Regions from separate parts of the Homo sapiens genome. Here region 1 is linked to region 2. The links come from fine-mapping of genetic effects on gene expression. Tissue or cell type: whole blood. Region 2 holds a variant in brackets; the other region holds the start of a gene. All regions are shown on one strand. Distances are from middle to middle.

Region 1 (5,117 bases), 51 kb before region 2:
CCCACCACCGTAATTCAAGCGCTTATTCTTTCTCGTCTTCAGCACTCACTGCCACAGCCTTCCCAGGGCTCCCGACCAATCCGTTCAACGGAAGCCAAAGGGGTCCTTGAAAAATGCAGACTCGATCTTGCCAATGCTCCCACCTTGAAATCCTCAGTCTGCCATGTTTTAGGACAGAGGCCCCCATGGCCTGGCCCCACCCATCTGCTCACTCCCTGCCTGCTCCCCTGTGACCAGGGTCAGCCTCCCTCCCTGTTTGCTACCTGAGGCTGCCGTAACAAAGCACACCAGGCTGGGCAGCTGAATGAAACAAATTTGATTTCTCAAGATCAGGGTACGGGCTGGCTCCTCTTGAGGTCTCTCTTCATGCTCATACTGCATTCTCCCTGTATGCACGTCTATCTCCAAAATTTCTCCTTTTATGAGGACAGCAGTCATATTGGATGAGTGCCCAACCTCATGACCTCATCTCACCTCAATCACGTCTGCAAAGACCTTGTCTCCAAACAGGATCACTTCCTGAACTATGGGGGTTAGGACTTCAGCATATGAATTTTGGGGAGACGCCATTCAGCCCGTAACACTCCCATGAGGCCTTTGCTCATGCTATTTCCTCTCTCTCCAACACTCCCCGTCTCCCACCTCCGCCCTTTCACCTGGCTATGTGACATGGTTTGGCTGTGTCCCCACCCAAATCTCATCTTGAATTGTAGCTCCCACAATTCCCACGTGTTGTGGGAAGGACCCAGTGGGAGGTAACTGAATAATGGGGGCAGGTCTTTCCTGTGCTGTTCCTATGATGGTGAATAAGTCTCACGAGATCTGACGGTTTTATAAGGGGGAGTTTCCCTGCACAGGCTCTCTCATTTTCTCTTTGCCTGCTGCCATCATGTAAGATGTGACTTGCTCCTTCCCGCCTTCGGCCATCATTGTGAGGCCTCCCCAGCCATGTGGAACTGTGAGTCCAGTAAACCTTTCCCTGTATAAGTTACCCAGTCTCGGCCATGTCTTTATTAGCAGCGTGAAAATGGACTAATACACTGTGTTTACTTATTCTTCATATTTCACCTCTGCTACCATTTGTTCAGGGAAGCCTTAAAAGTCTAGTTCAACATCCCTTGACACTCATTCTCTCAGGACCACCACGGTTAAACACATACTAATTTATCCTTCCATTAAGGGCTATCTCATCCTGCAAGACCCTAAGATCTGGGAGAGCAGGGACCATGGCCAGTTTCTACATCATTGTCATCCTGTCCCACATGTTGCAGACAGTGCCTGGTCAAACAAATGCCTGTTGGAGGAAACAATGAATGAAGGTTACTGAATATGCTACATAACAACTTTTCAGAAGTACTGATGGGCCGGGCGTGGTGGCTCACGCCTGTAATCCCAGCACTCTGGGAGGCTGAGGCGGGCGGATCACGAGGTCAGGACATCGAGACCATCCTGGCTAACACAGTGAAACCCCGTCTCTACTAAAAATACAAAAAATTAGCTGGGCGTGGTCGTGGGCACCTGCAGTCCCAGCTACTTGGGAGGCTGAGGCAGGAGAATGGCATGAACCTGGGAGGCAGAGTCTGCAGTGAGCGGAGATCGCGCCACTGCACTCCAGGCTGGGCGACAGAGCAAGATTCCATCTCAAAAAAAAAAAAAAAAGACGTACCGACAAACACCACCATTTTGCAACACGAAGATCAACAACAAAAAAGAAGGTCAAACTTGAAGTTCTGTCCTAAAATTACACACATTCTGCCTTTAGAAAACTCAGTGCATGGTCACAGATGAGAAGTGCCTGGCTAACCAGACTTGGGGACTCCTGGTTTGCAGTGAGTGCTGTCAAACTCGCGTTCTAGGCTGGGCTCACAGCAACTCCGACTCCAAGCTGTTTAGGCGCCTCTGTCTCCACTCAAGTCCACAGTCAAGGTCACTACTGTGAAACACTGTCTTGCTTTTAATTTCCAAGCTGCCTTGTTATTTCTTGGGAGTAGGCCAAGCTAACTTTAGGAGGAACTTAGTTTATAGTTTAACTTTGAAACAAAGATGATAACAGCCCTTTCCTGAAGCCAACCTCCTTCTTGCCTGGGGACCAGAATGCTTTTGTAAGACTAACACATGAGCCACAAGATTAGAAATTGTGGTTTGAGTCATGCAGCTAGAGGCCACAAGATTCCAAACCTCCCCAGTTGCTCCTTAGGATAACACCACTATCATCAACTCTAAGATTGGTGCTCAAGATATTTTTCAGGCTCTGCATTCTGATGCACCAGGTGCCACCACCCACACCACTAATCTGGCTCAACCAGTTCTGTGATCCCACCCAGGAACAGAAGACAGCAAGAGAATCAACTTTGACTCTCCATGGTTTCATCTCCAACCCGACCAATAAGCACTGCCCTCTCCCTGGCCCCCTACCTGCCTAATTATCCTTAGATGACCCATCTCAGGATTTTCAGAACCTGGTTTGAGCAATAAAGCTCCAGTGTCCTTTAGCCAGTTTCTGCATGCAGCCAGTTTCTGCATGCAGCCAGTTTCTGCATGCATTAAACTCTCTATTGCAATTCCCCTGTCTTGATAAATTGGCTCTACCTGGGCAGCGAGTAAGGCGAACCTATTGGGCGGCTACGCCTGAGATCTAATGACAGGCTGCACGTGAAGCCCAGACCAGGCACCTGTCTTACACCACAGGGGGATCCAGTCCACAGAACCAGCGTCCTTCCCTCCTGGAACGGACCTTCCCAAAGCCAGAGGGGCTCTAGGCGGCTCAAACAGGGGCTTCCCGGCTACCCTGGTCCCAGGCGGGACCACTCAGGTTCCTTCTCCAAGCCCCCTAGGCTGCAGGGCAGGCTTCCCTAGGGGCAGGCCCAGGCCTATAGCCCGGGACCCGCATCCCGGGCGAGCTGCACCCTCCCGAGACCTTCCCCATCTGTACAATGGGGACAGGACAAGGCCCAGCAGGCAGGCTGGCGGGGGTTCCGGCGACAGAGGGGGACAGCGGGCGAGCACGACAAGAGCACAGGCCCACGTGCGCACCGGCGGGGAGGAAGTAGCCCGGCGCCCCGCCCGCAGCGCGGACCGGAAGTGCTGCCGTAATCTGCGCTGAGAGTCGCGAAAGCGCTGTTCCCCTTAGTGACCGGCGACGCGGGCAAGATGGCGGCGCTGGGGGTGGCGGAGGCCGTGGCGGCCCCACACCCGGCTGAGGGGGCCGAGACGGCTGAGGCGGTGGAGCTGAGCCGCGCCCTGAGCCGCCTGCTGCCGGGGCTGGAGGCCGACAGCAAGCCGGGCCGGCGGCGCGCCTTGGAGGCCCTGCGGCGCGCGCTGGAGGAGCCAGGCCCTGCCGCCGACCCCACCGCTTTCCAGGGCCCCTGGGCGCGCCTACTGCTGCCGCGCTTGCTGCGCTGCCTGAGCGACCCCGCCGAGGGCTGCCGCGCGCTGGCAGTGCACCTGCTGGATCTGGGCCTGCGCCGCGCCGCGCGGCCCCGCGATGCCCTGCCGCGCCTGCTGCCCGCGCTCGCCGCGCGCTTGGCCGGCCCCGTGCCCGCGCGCCGCCCGCCCGAGGCCTGTGAGGAGCTGCGCCTGGCGCTTGTGCAGCTGCTGGGCCTGGCCGTGGACCTGTGCGGCGCCGCGCTCGCGCCCCACCTGGACGACGCTCTGCGCGCGCTGCGCTGCTCCCTGCTCGACCCCTTCGCCGCCGTGCGCCGCGAGAGCTGCAGCTGCGCCGCCGCCCTGGCGCAGGCCACGCCCGGTGAGCACCCCGGGCCCCGCTCCCACACGCCACCCCACACTCTCACCCCCACCTCCACCTCCGCGGCCCCTCTCACAACCCCCGCGGCTCGGCCCCGCCCCCCTCCACGCCCGCACCCCCCAACATCCCGGACCCCCCATGCGCCGCTTCCCCCACCCGCCTGCCCCAAAGCACCCCGCCCGGCCCCCTCCTCCCACCACCACTGCTTCCCCTGCCTCACGTCCCGCCACCAACGCGCCCTTCAGCTGCTCCCTTGTCCTCTACCCCCATGTACCTGTTTCCTGCGCTGCCACGTGCTCCTTGCCCCGTGACCCCTGTTCCTGCTTGGCCCTCACTCACCTCACTCCCCTGTCCCCTTGCTCCCCGCCTCCACCCTCCACGCCCCAAGCCCCGCCCCCCACCTGCCTGCTCCCTGTGCCCCCTCCACCTGCCTATCCTGTGCCATCCTCCTCCTTGCACGCCGCCCTCCCGCGACCCTCACCTCCCACCCTCCTCCCTGCCTGAGCCCCCTCCACCCCACCCGGGCCCACGAGCCAGCGCTTCTGTCCAGATACCTGGAAACCACCGCAGAAATTCCTGTTAGGCGGTTTGGGGTGGGGTGTGCCCTGATAGCTGCCCCCTTTCCTTCCCTCGGGGGCTTGCAGGACTTGCACCTGGTTGAGGGCACGCGCTTTGAGACTCTGCTCTGGTCATTTCACTTTCTGTCCCATTCATCCTACTCCCCTGCCTTTCCGCTCTGGCTTGGACCACTGTCCTAAGTGGAAGGAGGCCGCTTCTCCCCTCCACTTTATAACGTTCCCCATCTTTTTTAGAGCTCTGATCTGATCCGGTCGTTCCCTTTCCTTAGCTGGCCATTCCTGCAGGGTCTTGCCCTTTCCCTCCCCTGGCTGGGATGTGGAATGATAGCAGGCGCCTGCTTCCTGCTGGCGGGAAGGCTTTCCGAAGGAGGGAACACTGATGCTATAAATCCGTGGGCGGTAGGGAGCAGGAAAGCAGTGAGGGATCTGGCCAGCTCAGGCCGTCCCAGTGATGTCCCAGTGATGGTCTGAATGTAGTGGGAAGTGCAGGGGGTGTCAATAGAAGTGATAGACCCGAGTTCAGGTTGTTAAAAGATCACTGCAGCTGCGTGGAGAATAGATTCCAGAAGTAGAGGAAGAGCTGGACTTGGGGAAATGCCGAGATTTCCACGTTGGTTAACTTTGGATTTCACATGGTCCAGAACTCCTGTGGAGCTTGGGGAAGAACCTTGGGCTGGATGGACATGGCCATTGAGAATTCCTGGCATTTAATGTATTTCTTCTTCATCCTCAACCACTTCCCTACCCAGTCTGTACATCAGCCCCACGAGCTCCCTCCCTGGACCGTAGGTTCC
Region 2 (5,173 bases):
GGAAGGCGCTGCCCTGGGCGCCCGTGCAGCATCAGCGCCACCTCCTGGTGCACGCGGGGTGGTGCGGTCGGTGCTCCAGCCGAAAGCCCCACGTCCTTGGGGCCCAGGCGAGCCATTACCCTGGTTTAGGGTTAGTGCCTCACCTAGGAGTTGTGAACAGTGTGCGTATTTTCTAAAAATCAAGTAAGCAAGTTAAAAATTGCTCAAAATCTAAATTTTACAATGAAGATTCAAGCCTACTTTTTAGGTAAAGCTTTCAAGCCCCCTAAGTCCTTCCAGGCAGGAGTGCACGGATGGTGAGCACCCCCACCCCACCCCAGGACAGATGTGAGTCACGTCGTATGTGTTTGCTGATTGCAGATACGGGACGTGCAGGAAACACTGATGCCCCAGGTCCTGACCACCCTGGAGGAGGATTCGAAGATGACGCGACTGATCTCATGCCGTATTATCAACACGTTCTTAAAAACCTCGGGCGGCATGACGGATCCAGAGAAACTCATCAGGATTTATCCTGGTAGGACATTTCTGTTGTTCACAGCCTGTGTATATGCAGTCAGCCCTCCGTGTCCCTGGGTTCCGTTTGCATCCATGGAGTCACCCAAACTCAGATCAAAACTATCTCGGGCTGGGTGTGGTGGTTCACACCTTTAATTCCAGCACTTTAGGCAGGAGGGTTGCTTGAGCCCAGGAATTTGAGACCAGCCTGGGCAACATAGCCATACCCCGATCTCAACAAAAAATTTAAAAATTAGCCAGGGCTGGTGGCACACACCTGTAGTCCCAGCTACTCAGGAAGCTGAGGCAGGAGGATCGCTTGAGCCCAGCCTGGGCAACAGACCAAAACCTTGTCTTTAAAAGTAGGGGTGTGTGTGTGTGTGTGTGTGTGTGTGTATGGCTACATATATACATGTTTGTGCATTTATACATACAAATACAAATTTGTACTTACATTTGCATATATAAATATGTATGTATTGGGGGGCAGAATTCCACAGTTCCAAAAAGCAAAGCTTGAATTTGTTGGGCACCAAGTACAACGTTGAACCCGCATGAAGAAAGCATCATGTACACATTGCATTCGGCCTTAAAACAACATTGGACCCTCGTGAAGGAAGCGTCGTGTGGACGTTGCGTTCTGCCTTAAAACAACGTTGAACCCACGTGAAGGAAGCGTCGTGTGGATGTTACATTTAGCGTTAAACGTAATCTAGAGACAGTTTAAGGTGTGCCGGAAGATGTGTGTGGGTCATGTGCAAATACTATGCCTTTTTTTATCAGAGACTTGAGCATTTGAGGATTTTGGTATCCTAGAGGAGGAGGATTCCTGGAACCAAACCCCACAGATACCAAGGGACGACTGTATTTAAGTTTGATGGTGGCTTGTTTTATAGAAAAAAAGCAGAAAACGTGGCCGGGCACGGTGGCTCACGCCTGTAATCCCAGCACTTTGGGAGGCTGAGGCAGGTGGATCACAAAGTCAAGAGATAGAAACCATCCTGGCCAAAATGGTGACCCTGTCTCTACTAAAAATAAAAAAATTAGCTGGACATGGTGGTGCGCGCCTGTAGTTCCAGCTACTCAGGAGGCTGAGGCAAGAGAATCGCTTCAACTCAGGAGGTGGAGGTTGCAGTGAGCCAAGATCGCACCATTGCACTCCAGCCTGGGTGACAGAGCCAGACTCCATCTCAAAAAAAAAAGAAAATAGAAAATGCTCATCTTTGACTTCTGTTCAAGTTGGTACTATGAGAACAAACAGCAATGACAGATGAAATACCACAAATTAAACGGCACAGCAAGAAGCAAGGCAGAGGTCTCCAAACCAGCACTGGGTGGGGGTGACAAGGCTCAGCTTCCACGCGGCCGGGAAGGGGGACCTCAGGGTGGGGCGGCTGGAGCTGCCTGTGGGGAGACGGGGCCGGGCCACCCTGCAGCAGGACCAGGGGCACAGCCTCAGTGTCGCCGCCTCCTGGAGCCCAAACCCCAGACCAACCCCAGGTGAGAGCAAGCACTGGGGAGGGGAATGGGGTGGTTGGCTTGAAGCCCCCGAAAAGCAGCAGCACTGAACAGAGTCATGAATTCAGAGAGCCCCTCACTCAGGGCAGCCTGCACACAAACCCCTCAGGACAGGGCCCCCGCCACCCAGGCCATGGGCCAGTACCTGTCCGGGTCCTGTTAGGAACCAGACTGCACAGCAGGAGGTGAGAGGTGGGC[A/G]AGCGAAACTTCATCTGTGTTTACGGCTGCTCCCCATCTTTTGCATTACCACCTGAGCTCTGCCTCCTGTCAGATCGGCAACGGCATTAGATTCTCATAGGAGCACAAATCCTATTGTGAACTGTGCACGCGAGGGATCCAAGCTGACGCTCCTTATGAAACTAATGCCTGATGATCCGTCACTGTCTCCCATCGTCCCCACATGGGACCGTCTAGTTGCAGGAAAACAAGCTCAGGCCCCCACTGATTCTACAGGATGATGAGTTGTAGAATTATCTCATTATATGTTACAATGTAGTCATAGAAATAACGTGTACAATAAACGTAACGCACGTGACTCATCCTGAAACCATCTCACCCCCTGGTCCATGGAAAATTGTCTTCCATGAAACCAGCCCCTGGTGCCAAAAAGGTTGGGGACTGCTACCTCAGAACACCGAAGACCCGGCGCTAAGGGCAGCCTCGCACCCAGCCCGGGAAGGAAGTGCCGATAATAGAACCACCTCAAAGTTACCTTTATTGAGGCGTGTTTAAGATCCTCAAAAAGCTAAAAGAACAACATCCACTAAAAAACAAGTTGAGAAACAAGAAGACAAGCAGGAATAAAGAACAGATGGAAACGGAAGCGATCGCTGGGAAGTCCGGAGTGACACGGAATGGTGTGCTGGCACTACTTTGAGGAAAGGAGTTACCCAGCGAGGGAGAAAGGGGATGGGGTGGGCGGGAAGCGGCCACTCAGGCGTTCCTGATTAGCTCTACTTAATGTGATTATCTATATTTTGTGTATTTATGCCAGAAATGTTTAGCAGTTTTTAAAAGATGGTTCTTGCTAATTCCCGGAAATGAATGGAGTCATCGGAACTTCACACTCTGTGTACTGGGTCAACTCTAGACTGAATGTGGCTGAAAACAAAGTTAGTGACGTGAAAGCCAGGAATGTGGAATTCCTCAAGATCACGAGACAGAGAGGGGTGCAAGGCCTGGAGTGGGCGAAGGACACGGGACGGGGAGGGACGCGGGGCCTGGAGCGGGCAGAGGACACGGGATGGAGAGAGGTGCCGAGTGGGCCGAGAGGCTCCCGGGCTTTTCTGAATCCCAGGAGAAGAGAATGGAGGAGAGATGGTGCCTCAGAATCTTCCAGAACTGGAGACAGACATGAATTTTCAGATTCACAGTACACACGGCGCTGGGCAGAAAAACCGCCGCCTGCTGAACTCTGAGGTCCGGGGGCCTTTGTCACTCATTCTCTCACCTTTGCTTTTCTGTTTTTATTCTTTAGTAACAAACATCCTGTTCCCACTGACTCTGGAACAAGTTCAGTCCATGCGATTGTTGGGAATTCACTCACTTTTTAAAACAGGAGCTGGCGGAAAGGCTGCACGCGTTTGGGCATCTGAGCGCATTTGGGCATCTGGGCCACGGCCCCCTGTTTATTTTCACTACAAAAGGTTCCTTGAGAGGCCCCTTGCCTATTAGTGCCAGCTCTGGGCTTCCCAGGGTGAAGTGTTGGATGAATCATGGCCTCCTTGGTGGGGAAGGAAGGATGTCCTGAGTTGGGAGCACAGACATCCAGGCCTCCCAGGACAGACAGACACAAACATGAACAGCAGACAGGCCAGCGTGAGCCGATTCTGCCTGGCTTAGTCGTGCATGAAAGGAACCCTAAACTGGTACAAAAGTGGACCTGCAGGCCATCCAGGGAGTGACCATCGTAAAAACACAATAGCCAGTGCCACTCTGTGTACTTCCATAGTCGACCGCGCCAGCAGGAGGCCTCGGAGGATCCTGTCCGGGCCCATAGATGTTTGCTAGCGGGACAAGCTTGGGTGAGTTGAGCATCTGACTCCGTCCTTCCTCCTGAGACACGTGCAGCGAGGGCACCCACTGTGCAGCGAGGGCTCCCGCCGTGCAGTGAGCATACCCCCTGTGCAGTGAGGGCACCTGCCGTGCAGTGAGCATACCCCCCATGCAGCAAAAGCACCCCCCATGCAGCGAGGGCTCCCGCTGTGCAGTGAGCATACCCGCTGTGCAGTGAGGGCACCTGCCGTGCAGGGCTGCTTCAGGGTTTGGCACCATAATGCCTGGATGTGCTCCGTGGCTTCCTCCTTGGTGCCTGTGTTTGGTGGCTGGAAGGCCCAGCACCCTCAGGGCCCAGAACCCTCAGGGAAGTGCCTGGGCATCTGCCAGGAATTAACCCACTGGGTCCCACTTGTCTCAAAGCCTGGCTTGGTAGGATGGCCTGAACTTTGGATGTTTTTCATGCCTTTCGTTACATAGGATCCTCTTGCTGAGGGTGGATCATGCCCTCCACATTGCAAAAGCATCAGAGACCCAGCCCACCCTCGCGTCTGCAGCGGGAAGATGGGCCTGGTGCCAGGCGCGGGCAGCCGCCCCTCCCAGCGTCGGGAAGATGGGCCTCATGCCAGGCATGGGCAGCTGCCCCTCCCAGCGTCGGGAAGATGGGCCTCCGGGTGGTTTTGCGACTCAGTCATCTGCGAATTTCCGGATGCTGCACAGAAGGGGGTGCCAAAGTTTTTTTAAGATGATGTAAAAAAAGCATAAATTTGATAAAAATTATGTCCATTAACCTCATAAGTTTCTACCCATCGGGAAGGATCATCCTTCTGTTTTCAGCAGCAGAAAACTGACCACAGTAGGGGGTTGTCTGTCACTGAGTCCTCAGCTCTGGTGGGAGGGCAGGGTCAGAGCTGGGCAGGGTGGCCAGCTCGGGGATCTGAGCATCTGGGAGCAGGAGGTGGAGGGCCAGGTGAGCACACAGCTGCGAGGAGGTGGAGGACCAGGTGAGCACACAGCTACAGCTACAGGGAGGCTCTGCGCCTGCAGGACAGGTTATTACAGGGGCCGCAGCAGGGCCTGGGCCGCCTCCACTCTGTTGGCTGGGGTTCAGGGGTCCCAGGTCGCCAGGAGCACCTTGCATGTGGCTCGGGATGCACGGAGT

Evidence for each region. PIP is the estimated chance that this variant, and not a neighbour inherited with it, causes the effect.
Region 1: DNAAF5 starts here. The variant in region 2 is fine-mapped to the expression of DNAAF5 in whole blood (TOPMed, PIP 0.96).

Annotation. Positions count from the first base shown.
Region 1 is chr7:723,571-728,687 of GRCh38, forward strand. It overlaps DNAAF5 (dynein axonemal assembly factor 5), which reads left to right and starts at 3,129. Exons shown (of 13, transcript NM_017802.4): 1 at 3,129-3,745. The coding sequence starts at 3,151. It overlaps PRKAR1B (protein kinase cAMP-dependent type I regulatory subunit beta), which reads right to left and starts at 3,711. Exons shown (of 11, transcript NM_001164760.2): 1 at 3,640-3,711. RefSeq lists silencers at 3,202-3,401, 3,652-3,701, 3,762-3,871, 3,912-3,991.
Region 2 is chr7:774,646-779,818 of GRCh38, forward strand. It overlaps DNAAF5 (dynein axonemal assembly factor 5), which reads left to right. Exons shown (of 13, transcript NM_017802.4): 11 at 361-517. Among named protein-coding and RNA genes, the nearest start is that of PRKAR1B, 50 kb to the left of the region's middle. The variant A/G (reference allele first, on the strand shown) is at 2,215.